Regions from separate parts of the Homo sapiens genome. Here region 1 is linked to region 2. The links come from fine-mapping of genetic effects on gene expression. A gene starts in region 2. The other region holds a variant in brackets. All regions are shown on one strand. Distances are from middle to middle.

The links. PIP is the estimated chance that this variant, and not a neighbour inherited with it, causes the effect.
Region 1: its variant is fine-mapped to the expression of KANK4 in tibial nerve (GTEx, PIP above 0.99). The same link has a PIP of 0.9 or more in esophagus muscle, gastroesophageal junction and sigmoid colon.

What each region holds. Positions count from the first base shown.
Region 1 is chr1:62,389,403-62,401,699 of GRCh38, forward strand. No RefSeq gene overlaps it. Among named protein-coding and RNA genes, the nearest start is that of USP1, 41 kb to the right of the region's middle. RefSeq lists an enhancer at 11,444-12,220. The variant A/G (reference allele first, on the strand shown) is at 6,188.
Region 2 is chr1:62,313,490-62,325,786 of GRCh38, forward strand. KANK4 (KN motif and ankyrin repeat domains 4) reads right to left here and starts at 5,945. Exons shown (of 10, transcript NM_181712.5): 1 at 5,617-5,945. RefSeq lists enhancers at 4,538-5,262, 5,263-5,985.

The DNA of each region.
Region 1 (12,297 bases), 76 kb after region 2:
CTCGGCTCACTGCAGCCTCAACCTCCTAAGCTCAAGCGATCATCCCACCTCAGCCTCCCGAGTAGCTGGGACTACAGCATGAACCACTACACTCAGCTAAGTTTTTGTAGAGACTGGGTCTTGCTATGTTGCTGGTCTCAAACTCCTGGGTTCAAACGATCTGCCCGCCTTGGCCTCCCAAAGTCTCCCAAAGTGCTGGCATTACAGGTGTGAACCACCGCACCAGTTTTTTTTGTTTGCTTGCTTGTTTTTGTTTTTGTTTTTTAGAAACAGGTTCTCCCTCTGTAACTCAAGATGGAGTGCAGTGGCACAATCATGACTCACTGCAGCCTCAACTTTCTGAGCTCAAGCGATCCACCCTGCCTCAACCTCTGGAGTGGCTGGGACTACTACAGGCGCACACCACCACACCCAGCTAATTTACTTTACTTTTTGTAGAGATGGGGTCTCAGTATGCGCCCAAGCTGATCTGGAACTCCTGGCCTCAAAGGATCTTCTTGCTTCAGCCTCCCAAAGTGCTAAGGTTACTGGCATGAGCCACTGCACCAGGACTTTTAATGGAAAAATGATATTGTGCCTGAGATTTGCTTCAAAATAATCTGGGGTGGGGGGGAATGGAGGGCATGGAGGAAATGAGAGGGGCTGTGAGTTGATTGCTGTCAAGCTGGATGGGGGTTTCATGGAGGTTCATTGTGCTATTCTCTCTACTTTTGCATACAGTAAGATTTTTCTATAATAAAAATAAATGTAAGTAGGATTGATTGTTCCTCCTCTTGAAAGGATTCACCTTGCACATTCTTGAAAGGTGGCCAAGGAAGCCACCCCTTGTCCCCGTTCCTGTGGGATGAGGTATGTCTGGAGCGAGCAGAAGTGGGTGTGACTCTGCCCTGTCGCGCACATCTACTGAAGTCTTGAAAAATAACGGAACCCAATACACATTGAAAAGTGACTTTCTCCAACATCAAGTTATTGCACCGTTGTTTGGTAGGGTAGGGAGCAACAGAGGACCATGACGTCAGACTCCAGAACTCAAACATTTTTTCCCCTTCTTCACTGAAAACTCAGACCGTCTTCACATTTTGTTCTGAGACCAGGAGGAAGATCTGGGGCTCTTGGCCAGCATCTCCTTCTTGTCAGGATTGGCCTCTTTGTTTCCATTTCTTTAAAGAATGAAAAAGAGCAGAAGAACCTAGAAAACATTATGCACCTTTCATAGAAATAAAATACAAGCATACTATGTCCATTTCTCATAGACACTGGAGCCAGGCGCTCATTTTATTTTCAGATATGTGGGAGAATCTTTTGTTAGATACTCAGCCCAGCACAATGGGGAGAAAACAGGATATACATGTATGGTAACTAGGTTGTAAATAGATTTTAATCCCTTGAGCCAGCCTACCTTTAGTTCCTAATGCCCTGCCCCACAATGAAATTACATGGCCAATATCCTAGATCTCAGCTTTTCAAAGTTTCCTTCTTTACGCAGTCCTGGAATTCCTTACGTGCTTAGAAACAAAAACAATTTTATGATAAATGACTCAAAAAAGAAACAACTTTGCAATAAACTTTCAGCATTTTCCCGAACAGGAGAGTAACAGTCCCAAACAAAGCCACCCAAATTATTTTCCTTGCTTGCTGAGCTGCAAATCTTTGTTCTGCACGCTGATTCCTGATCCATGGTGCCCTTTTCATTAATTTGCTGGCAGATTTGAACCAAATCTGATTCCCATCCTTTCCATAAAACCTCCGATCTCTCCTGAGAGCCAAAGTCTGGGCCCAGGAAGTGGAGTTAGAAACAAAAATGAATTAACACTGAGTAAAAAAAAAAAATTGAATAAAGCATGCTAAACCTTCTTCATGGCTTCTTTCCTTTAATACTCATCCATCCCTCTGAGGTGACTGCTTTAATTCTCTTCATTTCATACATGGAAAAACTGGAGCTGAAAGGGGTTACAGCTAGTAAGAGGCTGAGCTGTGACTTGAACAAATTTCTTTTTGACTCTAAAGCTCAAGTTTATAATCACTGTAATAAACCCCTTTTATCAGGAGGCTTTGGAAGGACTTATTTACATTAAAAGTAGCAGAACTTTGCAGAAAAGATGCCAAGGCAGCAAGACATAGTAAGAAAGGGCACATATGGTTGTGCATGCTGAGCCCTACAGAGGGCGCTGTTTGCATTATAGTTTATGGGACTAGCGTCCCTGGAGTTGTGCTGAGCACTGGCTGCAGCAGGACCACCTGCCCTGAATGAGCATGGGCTTTGAAGTTTCAATAAGCTCCTATGATCTTTGACCGTGGGTAAGTTGCTTGGGGCTGACAATAAATGCAGAACAGATAATTCTGCTAAGATGACTGCTACCCTAGTGGCTATGGCAGTGGTTATGAATACAGACTCAGGAGTACTGTACTCAGAAAGCAACCTCTCCCAGTGTGTTCTTCCTGAGTGTAGAAGATCACTTTGTCTTGTATTTGGCCAAGTGCAGTTTCCTTCTCCTCCCTCTAAACCTCTAAATGCAGGAGTGCTTAAATCTCAGTCTTTGGGCATCTCCTCTACCTATACTCATTTTCAAGGTGAACTCATCTAGGCCCATAGCTCAAATGCCATCCACATACAATGACTCCCAAATTCTATCTCCAACTTTATCCTCTCCCCCAGCTCCAGACTCTATCTCTATCTTAACCTCTCCACTTGGGCATCTGATAGGACTCTGACGTGTCACATGATTTAAGACATCTGGAATAGAAATCTTGCTTTCCGCTCCTCACCTGCTCTTCTCCCAGTCTTTCTCAACCCTGTAAAAGACACCACCCTTCACCCAGCTGGCTCAAGTCGAAAGTCTACAAGTCAGCCCTAACTCCTCTCCTTCTTTTAAATCCAATTTCAATGCAAGTCCTATCAATTCTGCTCCTCAACATTTATCCTTATTCAGCCTCTTCTCCCCAGATCTGCTTGCTGCTTTTGTGTGTGTGTTGATAACTTTCATGAATCATATATTTTATTTTCCCAGTATTATAGACTAGATGTTTGTGGCCCCCCAAAATTCATACGTTGAAACCTAATTCCCAAGGTTTTGGTATGAGGTGATGGGCCTTTGGGAGGTGATTAAGTCATGAGGGTGGAATCCTCATGAATAGGATTGTGCCTTTTATTTTTAAAAGAAGGCTCCAGAGAACTCCCTTACCCTTCCACCATTTGAGGACACAGTGAAAAGATGACCATTTATGAACCATGAAGCAAGGTCTCAGCAGACACCAAATCTGCCGGCATCTTGATCTTAGACTTTCCAGCCTCCAGAACTATGAGAAATAAATTTCTTTTGTTTATAAGCCCCCAGTCTATGCTAGTTTGTTATACCTGCCCAAATGCACCTAGATACATTTTGTCTTTCAGTATGTAGGTTATAATTTTCCCTTTAAAAACAGTGTCTTCAGGGGTGGGTCCTGAATATCAAACTTTTATTGCTCTCAATTTCAAACCAGTATAAACACCTAATCCTAGTCCTGCTTTGACCACAAGCATCTTATTTAATTTTTTATTTATAGACAGGATCTCACTCTGTCACCCAGGCTGGAGTGGGCTGATCTGGAGGAGAATCAGACAGAGGCTGTGAGATATTCAGGCCAGTTTTTGACACATTGAGCATAAGGTGCTTTGGTATAAACAGAGATTTTTTAGTCGGAAATTGGTGGTGCAAGATTAGAGTTTTAGAAAATGGTTGCTGCTCAAGGTACACATTGAGCAAGATCATAGCTTACTGTAGCCCCGAACTCCAGGGCTAAAGTGATCCTCCCACCTCAGCTGTCCAGCTACTTTTAAATTTTTTTTGTAGAGATGAGGTCTCTCTGTGTTGCTTATGCTGGTCGTGAACTCCTGGCCTCAAGTGATCCTCCCACCTCAGCCTTCCAGAGCACCAGGATTACAGGTGTGAGCCACTGTGCCCAGCCTGACCACAAGCCTCTTGAAGGACTTGGTCTCTTCTCACACCAACAGCTTCTTCCCAAGCCACTCACTATTCCATCCTCTATAATCTCCTCCACCCAAAATTGACACTGCTCTTGACAAGGCAATGACTTTCTAATTGCCAAATCCAAAGGCTTATCTCTAGACCTAATCATACTCGACTCTCGGATCACGGGAAATTGCTGATCCTTCCTTCTGCTCTGGATCCTGCGGCCCCTGCATCCTGCATTGCTCCAACCCCTCTGGCTCAAAGGTGTCAGACTTATTTGATTACTCTTCTTGCAGACTTTACCCTTGATCTTCCTCTCTTCTCATTCTTCACCACTGGTTCTTAAACTTATTTTTTCAAGGACACCTTTGAAAACATGCTAGAAGCTATGAGAGAGTCATCCCTAAAATAAATAAGTAAAAATGCCTATATTCATGGACACATAATACCCTAAGTAATTTCAGGAGTTTCTTCACACCCTCAAGCCAAGTTAGACCCTCTGCTCTACTTTCTCAGCTGGGGGGGTGCCAACCACCCCCAGGGCTTCCATCATCACCCATATGTTGATGGCTTTCAAATGTGTACCTTGAGCAGCAACCATTTGCCAAAACTCTAATCTTGCACCCCCAATTTCCAACTAAAAAATCTGTTTATACCAAAGCACCTTATGCTCAATGTGTCAAAAACTGGCCTGAATATCTCACAGCCTCTGTCTGATTCTCCTCCAGATCGGCCCATTGCATAATGACTCACCATTCGCCCCATTACCAAGGAGGAATTGGCTCTTCTTCTCCCTCCTCTTGCTGCTTCCCAGGCTCCAGCCTTTCTCATCTCTTGCCTGGATTACTGGAGGAGCCTTCTGCTTGATCTGCCTGTCTCCCTCATTGCCCTCTTCAAACCCACCTGCTACACTGCAGCGAAATTTATCTTCAGCCTTTCCCTGCATCAAACCCCATTGCTCACAGCAGTACTTCCCCAAGCGTGTTTCAAAGAATACAAAGTCTCCATGATATTATATGAATGGAAAAAGTTTTCATGGTCAATTAAGTTGAAGAAAAGAATGAAAATTAGTTAGGCTTAATTACATCTCAGAGTCTTCAATATGCTAAAACACATTTCGGAGCTCCAACTGGGAGATATGAAATAAAGCCTTTGTCAAACTATGTGGCAACAAAAGAGCCTAGTGTACCTCAGAATACACTTTGGATGCCACTGGTCTATGAGCTGAACTTTAATTTCCTTGTCCATCTCTTTTTCTTTTTGACTTCTAGCTGCTATTTTTGATAGTGTAGACAATGGGAGGAAGGACAGCAGTGGCTTCAGGAAAACTAGCGTTTAAATCTCAGCACAGGACTTCTGGTCAGATTATTTCTCAGGACATGCGCCGTCTAGTGTCCCTGGGCCTCTCGGGAGGCTGAGCTCTGTGGGCTGTGGCACCAGGCGCCCTGGGCCTCTGGCTTTCAGCTGAGTTTGGGCATTGGAAAGCAGTGGTAGCAGAGGTGACGGGAGGGTGTTCATTCCCCACTGCCACCTTCCCTCTGGTGGTTCTGCAGTGCTCCCACACTCTCCCTGATCCCAGCTCTTGTCTGGTAGGGGTGACTTGCCTTCTCTTCCCCTTTAGGCCTGGGGGTGATCATGGCTTCCAGCTGCTACTAACCCCTGGGGGCTCCGTCATCGCTTGTTAGCCCCCTTAATTCTGCCCACACCTTTGTAAATAGTCCATTCCTTAAACTCTTTTCAATTAAACCTTCTGAGTACGCCATCCTGTCTTCCCTGATGGAGACAGGACTTTAGTCTCCTTACAAAATGGGGATGGTAACATCTACCTCATGAGACAGCTGAGAATGTTCTGTGAAAGTACCTGAGGTGTGCTGCACCCAGTACAATGCCTGACCCCCAGCAGTGCCCACTGAATAAGAGATGACTACCCCAGTCCTGCCAGTTGTCCAAGTAGTGACCTACTCAAGAGTCTCTCTGCTCCCTTGCCAGTGATCCAGGCTGAGGTGGGCAGAGGGAAATTATGCCAGGCCCCAGTCTGAAGAGACCAAGCAGCCATCAGGACGCAGGGTCCTGTCAGCAGTCACAGAACAGGACTGACCTGCAGGTCCTACTCCAGGGCCCCGGAACAGAGGATCCTAACAGGGATTGGAACAGCCAAGGGTCAGGGTGTTTCTGTGCTCAGCATTCCTCTTGGAAGAAAGCAGCCTCTGTGCTGGGCCCAGATGGTCTGGCCTTCC[A/G]CACTGGCCAATTGTTTCGCGAGGAGGAAATCCTTCCAGCTTCCAGTCTACTCCTTGTCCCCCACTGAAGTGATCAAGTGGCCTGGAAGAGGGGGTGCTATTTGGAAAGGGAGGACACTTGAATTAGGTTTCCGGTACATTTCCCAACAGGCATACAATGGGGAAATTTTAAAAGGGGTTAATAAGCCAGGTGCAGTGGCTAGTGCCTGTAATTCCAGCTACTTGGGAGGCTGAGGCAGAAAGATCACTTGAGGCCAGGAGTTCAAGACCAACCTGAGTAACAGCAAGACCTTGTCTCTAAAACAATTTTTTTTAATAGTAAAAAAAAAGGCCAGGCGCAGTGGTTCATGCCTGTAATCCCAGTATTTTGGGAGGCCAAGGTGGGCAGATCACTTGAAGCCAGGAGTTTGAGACCAGCCTGGCCAACATGGCAAAACCTCATCTCTATTAAAAATATAAAAATTAGCTGGGCGTGGTGGTTCATGCCTGTAGTCCCAGCTTCTTGGGTGACTGAGGCACAAGAATTGCTTGAATTTGGGAGGCGGAAGTTGTAGTGAGCTGAGATTGTGCCACTGCACTCCAGCCTGGGCGGCAGAGCAAGACTGTGTCTTAAATAAATAAATAAAATAGTAATAAAAAAATAAAAGGGGCTGGGCACAGTGGCTCATGCCTGTAATCCCAGCACTTTGGGAGGCCGAGGCGGGTGGATCATCTGAGGTTAGGAGGTCGAGAGCAGCCTGGCCAACATGGTGAAACCCCGTCTGTACTAAAAATACAAAAATTAGCCAGGCATGGTGATGGGCGCCTGCAATCTCAGCTACTTGGGAGGCTGAGGCAGAAGAATCACTTGAACCTGGGAGGTGGAGGTTGCAGTGAGCTGAGATCGCGCCACTGCACTCCAACCTGGGTGACAGAGTGAGACTCCGTCTCCAAATAAATAAATAAATAAAAATAAAAGAGCATTAACAGAAATGATATGTTAGAGAACACTTAGTGAATCTGCAGGCAGGCAAATTTATTTATATTGAGCCCTCATATAGGAAATTAATGTATTGGGTGTGTTGAACAAAGCATACCTGACTTATGGCACGTAATCAAAATGCAGTTTTATTTTGTTTTCTACTGTCTCTTTAAATCAATTCAGTGGGTAAAATTTTCACAATCTCTCGAAAATCAGGGAGTTTTTCTACACTCTTAAAGCCAGGAATAGACAACCTAATTCAGAAACAAAACAATACAGTATGGTATCCAACACCTCAAACTTCACTCTAGGGCAAGTCTTCTTTGCCTTCTCCCCACCCAGGTGCTCTCTGGTACAAAATTGTCTCCCAGGACCAGGATCCCTCCTGTAGCAGAGGTGCCAGCTGAAGGAAGTCTGAGCTCTCCCATCACCCTGGGGCCTCAGCGATTTAAAATGTAAAATTTCTCCCAGCATCAGGGAGTCCCCACGTTGATCTGCCACAGAGAGACGTGACTAGTCAAACGCCAAATGAGAATGCAGAAAAAGAAGCCAAGTCAGGAGGGAGGCGGGCCTCTGCCTGGAAAGGGAGCAGGGAAGGTTTCATGGCTCTCTTCCCCGGGGCTCTTTGCCTTCCCATCCCAAAGTGGGGCCACAGGCCCTGGGGACCCTGAGGCTATCCCAGCACTGCCAAGGATCTAGCTCTGGTAGCACAGGATGCCCTGATGTCAAGCAATTCACGAGTAGGATAGGATAGTGGGATTCTTAACTCTCCACAAGCCATAGTAAATGCAAGCTTGGGGGCCAGGAGGAAGGAGGTAAGAAGGAGAAGGTGTCACACGCCAGGGCCAAATTAAATATCTCTATCCCCCAAGACACTGCAGGACTCTCCATGACGTGCTAGCTAAACAGGCTGAGTTGCAGCTCTAGAAATTTATTTTGAGAACCGCAGATCTGTGGAGATGGTGAAATTGCAAGTCTAAACAAATCTCTTTGTCAAGTGAGGGCACAGGTGGGTGTGGATGACATCCAGACACCTGGCTTGGAGCTATTTGGGAGGACAGGCTATGAAGGAAACCCTTGGCCAAGGACCCTAAATATTTTTCTAACTTAGAATGAGAAGGTAGTGGTCATAGCCCCTCCATTTGATCCCAACCCCTTCAACCTCCCCCAACCAGACCCACTACCTGGAGCCCCTGGTGTGGTAGGCAGAAAAATGGCCCCTCAAAGATGTTCATGTCTTAATCTACTGAACTGGAGAATGTTATCCCACATGGCAAAAGGGACTTGGCAGATGTGATTAAACCAAGGATGTTGAGATGGGGAGATTATCCAGTGGGTGCCCCCAGTGTCATCACAAGGGTCCTTATACGAGAGGGGTGGGAGTGTCAGAGTCACAGAAGGGACTGACAGCAGAAGCAGAGTCAGAGGGAGGCCAGCGTTGGCTTTGAAGATGAAAGGGGCCATCACCAAGGAATGGACAGCCTCTAGAAGCTGAGAAGACAAAGAAATGACTTCTCCCCTCAGAGCCTCCAGGCAAGTACAGCCCTGCTGCCTCCCTGACTGTAAGGTGGTGAACAGATTTCAGACTTCTTCGGAACTATAAAATCATTAACTGTGTTGTAAGACACAAAGTTAGTACCTGTTACAGCAGCCATAGGAAACTAACACATGTGGTAAGAGAACGTTGATATGGTTCTTTCAGGTTCCTAAAGGCCCAGTTAAAAATAATCCTGATGAGAAGACATCACGCCACCCACCCACCCACCCCACTCCTGTCCATTTTACTGTGGGAGAGCCCACTTCCAAAAGCTGGATGTTTCAGGGTTGTCCATATCCAGAACTTAGTCACAATCACGGACACCACAGGGTGTCCCAGTGTGAAGTATAGCCGTCCCACTTCATGGGCTGACGCCCCATCCTGGAGTGGATGCATTTTGATATAAGGATGAGTTCCCTTTTAGAAAGAAAGCACCAATCGAGACTTTTTTCACCAATTATGACATTAGTTAAAGGATCATGGTGACTCATAGGGTGGTGGGAAGAATGAATGGCCAGCCTACATAATTTCTCGATGAGAAACATCAGCAAGTGCTAAATGGTATTCGAGTATTCTTTTTTTTTTTTTTTTTTTTTGAGACACAGTCTTGCTCTGTCGCCCAGGCTGGAGTGCAGTGGTGTGATCTTGGCTCACTGCAACCTCCACCTCCTGGGTTCAAGCGATTCTCCTGCCTCAGCCTCCTGAGTAGCTGGGATTACAGGTGTGCACCACCACGCCCAGCTAATTTTTGTATTTTTAGCAGAGAGGGGGTTTCACTATGTTTGTCAGGCTGGTCTTGAACTCCTGACATCAGGTGATCCACCCACCTCGGCCTCCCAAAGTGCTGGGATTACAGGCGTGAGCCACTGCGCCCCGCCTAGTATTTGAGTGTTCTTGAGGAAGACATCAGCAACTGGAAATACTGGGGATAAAAACACATGCCAGCCTAAGATCAATACTCAATGTTAACATTATTAGAACCATGTAAATATTATTCCCAGATGAGCCATATAGTGCGTTGTGATTTTTTATATGATACAATTTTTTGTTTTCTGTCAATAATTGCCTTTGTTTTGTTCCATTTCTTAGGTAACCATCACTATTTAATTTTCAAACTCTGGAACTAAGTATAAATCTCCTAAGATGTTTAAACACATGAGGCAATCTGAAGTGTTCTTTTTTTTTTTTTCTTGGTTACTCCTGAATCCCTCCATCATCCTGGTCCTCTCTGGACCGCTCCTCTTTAGGGTGATTGACAGCAATACCTCTTATGCTGGATTAGCTTTGCTTCTGGACTGAGAGTGCTACATGGGCTGAGAGGTATCCTAGAGAAAATTGCCTTGGAGTATGTGCCAGTTCTGATTTTTTCCTGAAGAGACTTTATGGCCTCTATTCATGCAGGGAACATTCTCAATCACATTGTATTTAGCCTCATCCTGGACCAACTCTCACATTTTTTAACTGACAATGGGTCAAGTAGACTTGGCCGAAGATGGCTGGCAGGGTCTCAAACTTTTTAAGTGAACACAGACTTGAAAAGAAGAAGCTGTTAATTGTGCCCTGAGGGTAGACCTGGCTCCCACTGTACAAGGGGGCTCAAGCACATACCTGGTTCATCACCCAAAGTGGACCCAAAGTGGGCAAGGATAGTGAGGCTTTCACCCAGGAAGGGGAGCCACATTATCACCTGAGTCCCTAAGATCAGATAAATAAATGAAGGTTATTTAAAATGGTGACAAGATGGGGCTGGGTGCGGTGGCTCATGCCTGTAATCAAAGCACTTTGGGAGGCAAAGGCAGGCGGATCACTTGAGGCCAGAAATTCAAGACCAGCCTGGCCAACGTGGTGATACCCCATCTCTACTAAAAATACAAAAATTATCCAGTCATGGTGGTGCACATCTGGTTCCAGCTACTCAGGCTGAGGCACGAAAATCACTTGAACCTAGGACATGGAGGTTGCAGTGAGCCAAGATCGTGCCACTGCATTCCAGCCTGGGCAACAGAGCGAGACTCTGTCTCCAAAAAAATAATAAAATAGGCCGGGCACAGTGGCTCACGCCTGTAATCCCAGCACTTTGGGAGGCCAAACGGGTGGATCACGAGGTCAGGAGATCGAGACCATCCTGGCTAACAGGATGAAATCCCGTCTCTACTAAAAATACAAAAAATGAGCCGGACGTGGTGGTGGGCACCTGTAGTCCCAGCTACTCGGGAGGCTGAGGCAGGAGAATGGCGTGAACCTGGGAGGCGGAGCTTGCAGTGAGCCGAGATCACGCGACTGCACTCCAGCCTGGGTGACAGAGTGAGACTCCATCTCAAAAATTAAAATAATAATAATAATAATCATAAAATAACATGCTGAATTATTTTTTTCCTTTTTTCCTAATTTATTAGTCAATTGTCCTAGAAAATGCATTCTCAGTAGGGGTGACAAAACCATTACAATCGTTTGTGATCTTGCAAAGGGCCATGGTACATACACAGATATACAGTATATCTGTGATATTAAAACTTTATGGGGAGAAGGGTAATTTTTTAAAAAATTGGCAAAAAAGCTTCCTTAAGGGGCAATAAAAAAGACTGAGAAATTTCATTCTAGAGATTACTGAATAAATACCAGGTGTAATTACTGATCTCTTTATAGTAGGCTTTTTAGTTTAATCATTAAAATTGGAGTCGGAAGTGTTTTCTGTTTTTGTTTGTGATTGGAAAAATAATTCCTACAAAAACTACCTCACAACAGAATCCTTCAATAGTCATGGCCCAGGAAGCTGAGGCGGAAACAAGAAACCCAGGTGTTACCTATTGGTAATTGTCCAGGCAGTAGAAACCAGAGAATGAGGGAAAACCTTGTATATGAAGTTCACCAAGTCATGAGATGAGGGGTAGCTGTCCTTTTTCCAGGACACTTGGTGGTGAGGCTACTCGTATTCTCAGCAGTCATCTGGAATAACATACTAGTGCTAATGGGTGGGTCCTTTCATTTTAAGTTGTGCCATCTGTGGTTGTGACCTAAGGGCCCTGGCAATCAACTATACTGCCACTTTCGAAAATCTTACAGTAAAAATTGACTGAGAATAATTATACATAATCAGCTGTCAGAGGCAAACAGGAGCCCTGGGGTAAAATACTTGGAAGCTTGAATTCATTAATTGTTTAGAAGAAAGAGGTCAAGCTGTGCTCAAACCACAGGGGTCTGCAAACTTTCTATCAAGAGCCAGAGGGTGAATATTTTAAGCTTTGTGTGCCGCTTGTCTCCATCACAACTGTTCAACAGCCATCGCTGTGCAAAGGGGGCAATAGACAAATTGCGGATGAATGGGCATGGCTGTGTTCCAATAAAACTTTATTTTTGGAAAAAGAGGCAGCAGGTGAATTTGGCCTGCAGGTCATAGTCAACCAACCCTTGCTCAACCATATTACTTACCCTTTGCAACATGGAGTTTGCTTTCTTTAAAGGGATGTAGCTGTCATCTATGGAAACACTTGTTAGAATGTTTTGGTATTTTTCCTGACGGAAAATGAATAGAACAGAAACTGGAAGCTCCAGCTGAGTTTGGCTGAAGCCCCAGAGGGCCCATTTTGATGCCATTCCTTAGCAAAAAGCCCA
Region 2 (12,297 bases):
TTTCCTCTCACTCCCAAACACCCTATTATGGAGGGGCAGGTGGGTAATGCCTTTTGTTATTATTTTTTATTTCAAATCACACAAATGATCCATGAAAATAATCTCTTAAAAATTCAAACATTACACCGCATGTTCTCATTCATAAGTAAGAGTTGAACAATGAGAACACATGGACACGGGGAGGGGAACATCACATACTGGGGCCTGCTGAGGGTGAGGGGCAAGGGGAGGGAGAGCATTAGGACAAATACCTAATGCATGCGGGGCTTAAAACCTAGATGACGGGTTGATAGGTGCAGCAAACCACCATGGCACATGTATACCTACGTAACAAACCTGCACGTTCTGCACATGTATCCCCAAGCTAAAAGTAAAATAATAAATTTTTTTTTAAATTTAAACATTGATAAAATGCCCTCCCCATTCATACTCAACGTCGTACCTAATAACTGTAGACCCTGACCACACTATTATATTCAGCCACTACCGAACTTGCCATTCCGTCTTTTTGTTTTGTTTTGTTTTGATTTGTTTTGTTTTTGAGATGAAGTCTTGCTCTTGCCGCCCAGGCTGGAGTACAGTGGCGCGATCTCGGCTCACTGCAACTTCTGCCTCCTGGGTTCAAGCGATTCTCCTGCCTCAGCCTCCTGAGTAGCTGGGATTACAGGCATGTGCTACCATGCCCAGCTAATTTTTGTATTTTTAGTAGAGATGGGGTTTCTCCATGTTGGCCAGGCTGGTCTCGAACTCCTGACCTCAGGTGATTGGCCTGCCTCAGCCTCCCAAAGTGCTGGCATTAAGGTGTGAGCCACTGCGCCCAGCCTCCATTCTGTCTTTTAAACCTTTCCCCAGGAGTAGGATGGCTACATTTTCCAAGGCAGAAGGGAGAGCGGGGTGGGAAACACCGATGAACTGAGCGCAGCGCCTGAAAACACTCAGCCCTGCTGCCTGGTGCCCTGCTAGGAACATCCAAATCGATGGCACCGAGAGCTGGCGTCTCCGGGCTGCTGGGCAGAAACCAGGATGTGGAGGGGAATCGGCACCGAAGGCTGCTCTTTTATCCTTGTGTGGAGCAAATTCTCCCTATGCTGTATTTCTCTCCCCCCTTGTCATTTGACGTCAGAGCCACAAATTAGAAATACATACCAAAGGAAACTCTGCAGACACAAAGGATCCTTCCATGCAAAGGGGGAAAAGCCACAGCCACATTAAAAAAAAAAAAAATCTATCCAACCAACAAGTTTTATTTACTTTTGGGGAAAAAATGAGGAGAGTGATGGAACTGGGATTTGTGTTTTCTCCCACAATGCCTGTGTCTCCAGAAAGCTATTTGAGGGGGCAGAGCCCAGGGCCTGGGCGAGACAGTGAAGTGATCCTTTTGAAAACAGGACTTCTTTCTCTTGGAGAAGGAACGCTCGGCCAGCTTCTTCAGACGCCACCAATCTATAACTGCCCATGTATCACATTCACCATCTACGTACTTTAAATCTTGGACAGCATTTATTTTATCCTGGAAACTGTGACAGCCCTGTTTTTAGCCGGAGGGCCCCTTTTCTCTCCTTTAATCCTACTTTGAAATATTATCTGTGTAGACTGCAGGCTGTTCACAGAAAGGCCCATTAGAAGCCTCTTAGTCCAAACTTGGTCTGGGAGATTGGCGTCCTGAGGCACAGAGAGGTTATGGACCAGCTGTAAATCACACAGCTGCTTGGCGGTGAATCTAGGCTCCAATCCCAGGATACACTGACCTCCAAACCCATGCCTCTTCCCACAAACTCTACTACAGTGTAGCACAAAGTGGTTAGCCGTCTGATCTCCAAAGACAGAGGGCTCTGTGAAATCCCAGTTTTATGGTCATTTAATATGGACCATGACCCTGGGCAAGTCACTTAACCTCTCTGAGCCTCGATTTCCTTACCTACACATTGGGGATTATGGCAGTAACTAACTCTAGGATAAGGGTGAGGCTTGACTATGCCAGGGATCGACACACATGTACATTATGATATTGTACTGTTCCTGTTTCACACACAATCGAGTGGCTCTGTGATAACTGTATCCACGCCATCATCCAGAAATTGGCAAGAAAGGATTGTTCTCAAACCCATTGTACAGATAGGAAAATTGAGTCCCCCCGCCCACAGATGACATAACTTGCACAACATCAGAGTTTTAAAAGTAAGTATATAGGTGGAGGCTGCAGTGAGCCATGTTCATGATACTGCACTCCAGCCTAGGTAACAGTGAGATCCTGTCTCAAAAATAAATAAATAAAAGTAAGCATATTCTCAGCACTAAGAAGTCCTAAATATCCTCCCCACCATACCTACCGAAGTGCAGGTTGAACTAGGAGTAAAAGTTGCCTCTTCCCTTCCCCCTGCAGAGCAGAGCCACGAGTGCACAAGCACATACTCCATGGCCCTGTCTTGTAAACTGGAATCAGCACGGGTCCTGGCACAGAGCAGAGGCTCAATGCAGTTTCAAAGAATGGGTGAATTCCTGAATCAATGAAAATCCCAATCTGCTAAGAAAGGGGCCAGGCAGGCAAGAGCTCTGGTAGCAGCAAGCAAGAACCCCGTTCTCTCCTTAGCCTGTTCTGCAGGAAGAAACCTTTGACAAGGTCAATAGCTGGGCCTCTGATCTCAATGGTCCACCAAGGGCGTCCCCCAGTCTGGCCCACATGGCCCAATCCAGGACCCAGGAGGTAACTGTGAAGCACAAGTGACCCTCCTCCAGCTAAAACAGATGTAATAATATTGCAGGCAAAGGGCGGTGAACAGGCCAGGGAGAGGGCCCATCTGTCTTCCTAATTGTCAACTCTGCCCATAATATTTTTCTCCCTGTCACACCTTAGGCTGCTACTGAACTGAAGCAAAACCAAGATATCCATCTTCCAGCCATGAGCAGTGGCCTTCATAAAGTACCAGGAACGAAAAGAGGCTGCTTGGCTAAGAGAAGCAGACAGAGCTGGAAGGAGCTTTAAACTGCAAGTCAGGAGCTTAGGAATCCCTACTCATAGCCAGCTGTGGGTACTTAGGCAGTCATCGCACCTCACTGAGCATCCATTTTCTGTAAAATTGAAGTCCAAAGTTTTGGAAATGGGTTAATGGAGCAGGGAGGTGTGAATCATGTAATATTGTATGCAAGATATTTTAGGTTTTATGCAGTTGGAGGAGAGTATCCATAATTTTCATCAGAATCTCAAAGATATATGCAATAACCACCATCCCCTCCCCATATAAAAAAGTTAAGAAATACTGGACAGGACAGTTTCCATCCAACAAGCATTTTTTGAACACCTTCTATGTGCCCTGCTCTGTGCTAGGTACTTGGAGAGCCCTGTTTTTAAGGTGCTCAGTGTAGCTGATGTTTGCTGTGACAGAAGCATGTCCAGGGAGCTTTAGGAACAAAGAGAAAGCAGCATTTGCCTCTATCTTGTCAGGAAGGGCCTTCTGCAGGGGAAAAAACCTTATGTTTAATGCCGAAGTTCAAAGCTAAGAGTGCATTCACTGGGTGGGCAAGAATAATATTTCAGACCAAGGGTAGTAGTATGTGCAAAGGCAACGCGTGGCCCAGGAACCACTTGAAGCATAATTGTGCTGAACATATTGAAGGTGCTCATTGCAAGGGGCCGGGAAAGTGTTAGAGCCAGAAGTGAGGCTGGGAAGGCAGGTAGGGCCCAGATGAGGAAATGCCATGTATGCCACCCTAAGGAATTTTACACTGTCAGCAAGTTCTTTCTAGTTTTAAAAGTCTAGGATGAGCCACCACTCCTAGCACAAATCTCCCTAAATGTTGGGCAGAGGCTTTGGTTCACTGTGAGCTGAATGGACATTAGGGAATGAACCGCTCGCTGCTCTTGGCACCACGAGCAGGCATGGGCTGTCTGACCAAGGTGCACACATGGGGCAGTGAGTCCAGCAAGGTGCTATTGGTCTATCTCTCTCCTTCTCCCCACACTATGATCTAGCCAGGGGACTTCCAACTGCTCATTATTACAGTTCAGAAAGGAAGGCACTGACTGGACCAGTCAATGGGATGCACAACTAAAGGACTGCCCATTTGGGCCCCTGGTAGTAACTCAGCCAACAGAGGCTTTCAGTTCCTCTAACCCACTCTGCTACTCACCTTAGGCCCTCTCACACGCGGCTACTTCTGCCTAGAAGGCTCATTCCACTCTCTCCTGTCATTCTGCAGACTGACCGACTACTGGACCTATCAGGTTTTCAGGGTATCTAGTCCTTTCAAAGAACTCAGCACTGGAGAATTCTCTATTTATGTGAGTGATTTAATTCCTGTTGGTGTTGGCCACTGGAATGCAAGCTCCATGAGGCCAGAAGGTGCCAGTTTTGTTCACTTCTGTACCTCACTACGTTGACCAGTGCCTGGCACAGAGCATTTGTTGATTGAATCAGTCTGGTCTGATCCCCGAGCCATTCCCCAAAACTCACTTTCCCCAGGTCACATTATGGTCCAGTGAAGTGGGAAGGCTGGGCTTGAAAAGGCAGTATTAGAACGGACTCTGCCTCCATTCCCAGTGTAGCTTTCCTGTGTCACATTTTGAGAGGCTCTAAGCAACCTGGGCTTGATTTACCCAAGCAGGTCCTTGGGAATCGTGTTTAACTCAAGATGCTTTCTCCCCATGCCTCAGCCGGGTCACTGGCTGCATCTGATCCTCCTCTGGCCCTATTTGGTAGATAGGACTTTGCCCAGGCCTCAGGGGGTCCTCCTCCCTCTCCTGGAAAATACTCCCTCTTTGCCCTAAAGGCTTGCACTCCAGGGCGCTTAGGAACTAAGACTTGAGTTTGGCAGCCCCGAAGGATGCCCAGGGCAAGAGTTAGGTTCAGACCCAGCGTAGCGGCCATGGGCTCGACTTTCCAACTCCCATTTCTGGCCAGTCTGCGGGGTCAAAGTACCCAGTCACAGATTTGACCTTACCGGAGAGGCAGAAGGGAAAGGAGCCCACAGGAGGCATGCGGGCTGGGCAAAGCGCCCTCGGCGGCGTCTAGAGCACTCGGAGCTGCCCCATTGCCTCCGCCCAAGGTCGCGGCCCAAAGGGAGCCCTGGAAAGTTCAGCCAGGGGCCGAGGAGTGCCAGGGTTGGCACTACGGGGAGACTTTTGCGACAGGAGAGAGACTAAGAGCTCGATTCCAGGTAGCAGTGGGAGCCCGCGGCAAAGAACGCCCAGTCCCGCAGGCTGCATCCCAGACCGCAGCGCCTAGCTCGGAAAAGCTGGGCGGGGGCTGCACCACCTGAGTCGCAAGGACAGCACGGCCTCCCCCTCCTCACCAGTGTTCTCCACCCCCAGAATTGGGGCGCGGAGAGCCAATCTGGGCTGGAAAGGGAGCGGCGCCCACCTTTGGGCAGCCCGAGCAGCCCCGCTCCTTTTCTGTCGCAGACCCCAGGCTGGGAGGCGGGGGCGCCAGGTCGGCCCAAGCTGCCGCAGCCACTGCTTTAAAGGGAGCCGGGGACGCGGCGCTGGGGACTGGGCGAGGCGGGTGGCAGAGGCAAGAGGAGAGTGGTCGAGCGCCGGGGCCAACACTCGGGTCGCGCAGGGCGGGTGTTGAACACCCCAGCAGACGCACTGCGGGGGACTGGGGTCGCAGAGTCCCTTACCTTGGCGAGCTGCGGAAGTCCTGCGCGAGGCGGCCCGCGGTGCACGGGGCCGGGGCAGCTAGGCGCACACCCCGGCTTCGGAGCGCACGCAACCTCCGGGTGCACTGTCCGCGTCCCAGGCGCGCACCCCGGGGCTGGCGCACCCTGGTCGTCCGCGGCGCGCACACCCTCCAGGCGCCCTCTGGCCGACGGTCTCGGCCCTGGCCCCGGCGCACCCCTGCGGGCACACCCACCGCGGCGGATGCGGGACTGGCCAGGCGCCGCCAGCCGCGGCTTCGCCCCGCGTCGCCAGCTGCCAACAGCGCCCGAGTCCCCGCCTTCGCTAGGGGAGAAAAAAAAGACTCCTGACGCGGCGCGGACTTTGGTGTGTAGGAAGGGGCAGAATTGCGAAACCGAGGGGAGGGTCTTAGCCTCGATAAACTCAAAAGCCCTTGATAAACATGAGCTTAGAAGAAAAACTTTTTGAAAAGAGACCAAAAACTCCTAACCTGTTCATAGCGCTTTTCAGATTCCCAAAGTGCTTTCGTATGCGTTTATCTCGGTTCATCTAGACATTTCCATCCTCATTTGATAGGTGCAGAAACAGCACCAGACAAGGTAATGACTTGCCCCAGCCAGGACTGGAACCTAGGTCTGGCCACTGGGAAGCTGGGTGCAGTAAGTTAGGTCCTCGCCAGCGGATGTGGGCCAGTGAGGGCTGGGGTCCTAGTAACAGAACTTTTACCTCTCCTAAATCGTCTTTTTCCATCTCCTTTTTTTCTTCCCAATCCTTGCTGTAGTCCCACTCAGGAACCCTAAGTCTTTCATTTCACACTCCGACCTCCCACCAAAGGTTTGTTGTTGTTGTTGCTGTTTGAGACGGAATCTCGCTCTATGGCCAAGCTGGAGAGCAGTGGCGCGATCCCGACTCACTGGAACTTCCGCCTCCCTGGTTCAAGCGATTCTCCTGCCTCAGCCTCCCGAGTAGCTGGGACTACAGGCGCACACCACCACGCCCAGCTAACTTTTGTATTTTTAGTAGAGACGGGGTTTCACCATGTTGGCCAGGCGGGTCTCGAACGTCAGGTGATCCGCCCACCTCGGCCTCCCAAAGTGCTGGGATTACATGCATGAGCCACGGCGCCCGGCCCACCAGAGTTTTTTATCAGTTCAAAATGTTTGCGTTTCAACCGCTAACCTTGAATGAACAGTTCACTAAGTGCCTGGTGGGCGTTGTGCACCCTAACCCTAGGAAAAAGGAGCTGCTGCTACTCCTCCTTTACAGATGAAGACAACAGAGATAGGCAAGTAGAGGGCCGTGGACCCCGTAAGACTCCGGATGCCAGCTCTGACCCCCACAATGGGCATCCTTCATGGGCCCATTGGCAAGGGCTAACACTTAGGCAAAGGGGTTTCGTTTTTGACATTGTGACCCAGATGGGGGAGTACTTTCTAGGACTTTCATTTTACGTTTTTATAGAAATATGGTTATTTGAACGATTTCACTTCCACTAGAGCTCCACTGGAGCAAATCAATATCCCAGAGCAATAATAAATGGCAGCAGAGACTTGGTCCCAGTGTTGGGACATAGTAGGGAGTGGTGGGGACTGTGGTGAGCTTGATAGCAGCTCCAGGTTCTTGCCCAAGGGAAGGGGCTGCTGCTACTCAGCTCAGTCTATTTTGTCATCTAGGGAAAGGGATTCATGTGGCCAGATCCTCCCATTTTGAAAAAGAAGCCATCAGCCGGACACGGTGGCTCACGCCAGTAATCCCAGCACTGTGGGAGGCCAAGGTGGGTGGATCAGCTGAGGTCAGGAGTTTGAGACAAGCCTGGCCAACATGTGAAACCATCTGTACTAAAAATACAAAATTAGCAAGGTGTGGTGGTGCGTGCCTGTAATCCCAGCTACTCAGGAGGCTGAGGCAGGAGAATCACTTGAACCCAGGAGGCAGAGATTGCAGTGCACCGAGATCGCACCACTGCCCTCCAGCCTAAGTGACAGAGCAAGACTCCGTCTCAAAAAAAAAAAAAAAGCCATAAGTCAGATATTTAAGTGAAGGCCCCAAATTTGTTAGGAGCTCATTTGTATAATGCTAAACACTTTCTACATAGGTCAACACTGTTCAAGCCAAAGGAAATGGCTTTATGGATCAGATCCAGCCTACAGGCCAGGGGTTTGTGCTCTCCTGTTTGGGGGCACTTCACACTATTTTCATTTGGGCTTCCCAACATCCCTGTGGGATAGACCCAGTGTGGATCATATTTCCATTTTAGGGAAGAGGAAGCCCAGTTCAGGTGGGCTCCAGAACTGGCCCAAAGTCACACAAGCAAATTGGTGGAGCTGGAACTGAAACCAGACATTCCACAACTCCTGGTCCTGGAACCTTTTCTCTGGGCATTCTCTGATCTCATGGAGAATTTGTTTCTTGGTTCTGGGTATTGTGAGCCAAGTTAGGCATGGGGCTGGGACTGGGGTGTGGAGACAGCACCTTTCCTGGGAAGATGGAGCGGGAGTGCCAGACTGCTGTCCTCGAAAGCAGGAGACCAGTCTGATGACTCAGAGATGAGACTGTGTCTTGAGGGTAAAGCTGAGTCAGAGAAAGCAAGATCTGAACTGGGACAGCCTGGGCTTCTGAAGCCCAGGTTAGGGTATTGAGAAACTGGGAGAAAAACAGACTAAGCAAATCCTCTATCCCCACCCCCACTCCCCCCCCACCTCCCCACCCCACACAAAACCAGAAGCCCCAGACACCGAGACACCAGCAAGAACATTGCTTACTATTCCTGTCATGACAGGAAAGCATCAGGAGTTAGACTGTAAGGGGGCCCCTTGTATGGTCCTGGAAAGAGGGAAACTTTTTCAGGCAGCAGATCTCTAAAATCTCAGGTTTGGGCATCTCCACTGCAGGACCCAGCCTGGGCCTTTCAGACGGAGTGAGTACTCGTGTTGAAAACTGATTTAGAATGACTGGGCACAATGCTACTGCAGTCTGATCCTCCGTAATCGAAGGACTGAGCAGCAGACAGAATGGGGCATCTCTGTGCCTTTACTGGAGTTTGGGGTCATGTGTAGGAGGATTAATACTAGTCACTTTTGTGAACCCAGAAAATCTGAGACAGTTCTCAGTTAATTTAGAAAGTTTATTTTGCCAAGGTTGAGGACGTGCCTGTGACACAGCCTCAGGAAGTCCTGATGACATGTGCCCAAGGTGGTCGGGGCACAGCTTGGTTTTATACATTTTAGGGAGACATGAGACATCAATCAATATTGTAAGAAGTACGTTGGTTCGGTCTGAAAGGTGGGACAACTTGAAGCAAAGGCAGGAAGACTCTAAGTGAAGTGGGAGGGAGCTTCCAGGTCACAGATGCGTTCTTTGGAGTTTCTGATTAGCCTTTCCAAAGGAGGCAATCAGATATGCATCCATCTCAGTGAGGAGAGGGATAACTTTGAATAGAATGGGAGGCAGGTTTGCCCTAAGCAGTTTCCAGCTTGAGTTTTCCTTAGTGATTTTGGGGACCCAAGATATTTTCCTTTCACACTATCTACCATGTACTGGCATTTCACATACATGACACAATCTCACTGGGACTCACAACAAAACCGAAATAGCTATTCTCTTATTGAGGATCTGAGGCACAGTGTTACTTGCCTGAGGACACACAACTAGTAAATTGGGGAGGTAGGATTCAAACTTACATCTTTGTGACCCAAATATAAACCTCTCTAACTGTAGGCTTGGAAATTGGGGCCAACATGGAGATGTATCACTCAGATCCCACTTTAAGACAGGACTGCCAGGCTGCAGCCATGTGGTTTGCTGGCAGCCCCCAGTGTGGTGAGCTCCTGCAGTCAGTGGTGTATTGGTAATGTTTAACAACCAGCTCTCTGGGCGCGGTGGCTCACACCTGTAATCCCAGCACTTTGGGAGGCTGAGGCTGGTGGATCACCTGAGGTCGGGAGTTCAAGACCAGCCTGACCAACATGGAGAAACCCCATCTCTACTAAAAATACAAAATTACCTGGGCGTGGTGGTGCATGCTTGTAATCCCAGCTACTCGGGAGGCTGAGGCAGGAGAATTGCTTGAACCTGGGAGGCGGAGGTTGCGGTGAGCCAAGAGCGTGCCATTGCACTCCAGCCTGGGTAACAAGAGCGAGGCTCCGTCTCAAAAAAAAAAAAAAAAAAAACAGCTCTTAGCAGGGAGAAATGTGTGCATATATACAGTGGGTTCTCAGTATTCTCTGTAGTTCTATAAGTTCTATAAAGTGGCTTCAAACACTGAAATCGTGAATATTGAACCATTGCTCTTAGAGGAAATACAGAATAAGGTTCCTGAGGGCCTCTGGTTACATTTTCATCAGCCCATTAATATCTAACATTGTTTTACCTGTATTTCTGTTTAAAGACTCCTTATTCAACATATATCAGGTATGATTCTGACATGAACACTGATTGGTATTTTTGTTTACATTAAGGATTAAAATGAAAGTAAAAGAACAAAGGTGTATATTGGGAACTTCATTATTCAATAGCATGAGTGACTTCTTTGTGAATCAGATAACTGTTTTCAAATACTAGAATATCCCTCAATATTTTGTACTATTTACAATGTACAGACATGGCACACTTTTAAATTTAGTATGCAATATTAACCTTTCTCATTTACTTTCTTATGTCTAGAACACTGTACAGGTTTTTGTGTGAGCATAAATTTTCGTTTCTTTAGGATAAATACACAGGAGTGAGACTGCTAGCTCGTATGATAAATGTATGTACAACTTTATAAAAAACTACCGATCTGGGCGCAGTGGCTCATGCCCATAATCCCAGCACTTTAGGAGGCTGAGGTGGGAGGATCCCCTGAACCCAGGAGTTCGAGACTAGCCTAGGCAACATGGAGAAACTCTGTCTCTACAAAAAATACAAAAATTAGCCAGGCAGGCTGGGCATGGTGGCTCACGCCTATAATCCCAGCACTTTGGGAGGCCAAGGTGGGCAGATCACCTGAGGTCAGGAGTTCGAGACCAGCCTGGCCAACATGGTGAAATCCCATCTCTACTAAAAATACAAAAATTAGCTGGGCATGGTGGCAGGTTCTTGTAATCCCAGCTACTTGGGAGGCTGAGGCAGGAGAATCGCTTGAACCCAGGAGACAGAAGTTGCAGTGAGCCGAGATCACGCCACTGCACTCCAGCCTGGGCTACAAGAGTGAAACTCCTTCTCAAAAAAACAAAAACAAAAATTAGCTAGGCATGGTGGTGAGGCTAACATGGGAGGATCACTTGGGTCCGGAAGGCAGAGGTTGCAGTGAGCTGAGATTGTGCCACTGCACTCCAGCCTGGGCGACAGAGCAAGACCTTGTCAAGAAAAAAAAAAAAGAAAAGGAGAAAGGAGAAAGAAAGAAAGGAAAGAAAGGAAAGAAAGGAAAAGAAAGAAAGAAGAAAGAAAAGAAAAGAAAAGAAAAGAAAGGAAAAGAAGCTACCAAATTTTCCAGTGTGGCTGTACCTTTTATTTATTTATTTATTTTTTTTGAGACAGAGTTCACTCTTGTTGCCCAGACTGGAGTGCAATGGCACAATTTCGGCTCACCACAACATCCGCCTCCTGGGTTCAAGAGATTCTCCTGCCTCAGCCTCCTGAGTAGCTGGGATTACCGGCATGCGCCACCACACCAGGCTAATTTTGTATTTTTAGTAGAGATAGGGTTTCTCCATGTTGATCAGGCTGGTCTTGAACTCCCGACCTCAGGTGATCCACTCGCCTCAGCCTCCCAAAGTGCTGGGATTACAGGCGTGAGCCACCATGCCCAGCCATGGCTGTACCATTTTACACTGCCATCAGCAATGTACAAGAGATCTGGTTGCCCCTCATCCTTTTCAGCACTTGTTATTATCAATGTTTTAAAAAACTTTAGCCATCAGTGTTTAGAGATATCTAAACATAGCTTTCGTTTGTATTTCCCTAATGGTTAATGATCTTGAATATCTATCCATGTGCTTATTTGCCATCTGTATTAGATTTGTTTTTAATATATTTTATTCAATTGTAATTTTACATAATTTAATTTGTAATAATGACTGTCTTTAACAACTGGCTCATAAAATTCCTGAAAATTTCACAATCAGCTATTGCGAGCCAGAGCAAGCTGGCTCCAGCACACCCCTTCATCTGTCTGGCTGAGGTCTCCGTGGCCTCTGGGCAGCTCTCAGGCAATGACTGAGCAAAGAGGTGGAATGAGGCCTCACCATTTCCCCTCAAGGCAGGATTCCTTTCTGGACAGTCTGCTCAGAGCATCGCCATTTGACAGCTCTCCCTGCCCAATTCTGCCTTTCTTTCACAGGGGCTGTTCCTGATAAACTTCCCCAACCGTAACTCTCTATGCATGTTTCCTGGCGAGCCCAGCCAGCACAGAAATTCTGTCTAGTGACACGGCAGCCTTTCTGCCTCTGCCACCGCTGATTTCACTGCCACACTCGCTTAGGCCCTTTGAGCTCCTCACCTAGAAAAACGCACATCAGCCCAGAGGCGCCACTATCTCAGCAGTCCGAGCCCACGCAATGCTCCCGGAGCTGGGCCAGTGGGCGCCTCAACCCCGATTCACCTATGTGCACTGCTGTGTGGTGAGAGTGGTTCCCTGGGTCATTCTCTGGCACAACCTAAAAGTGGAAGTGCAGAAATCTCAATGTCCCGAGGAGGTGATG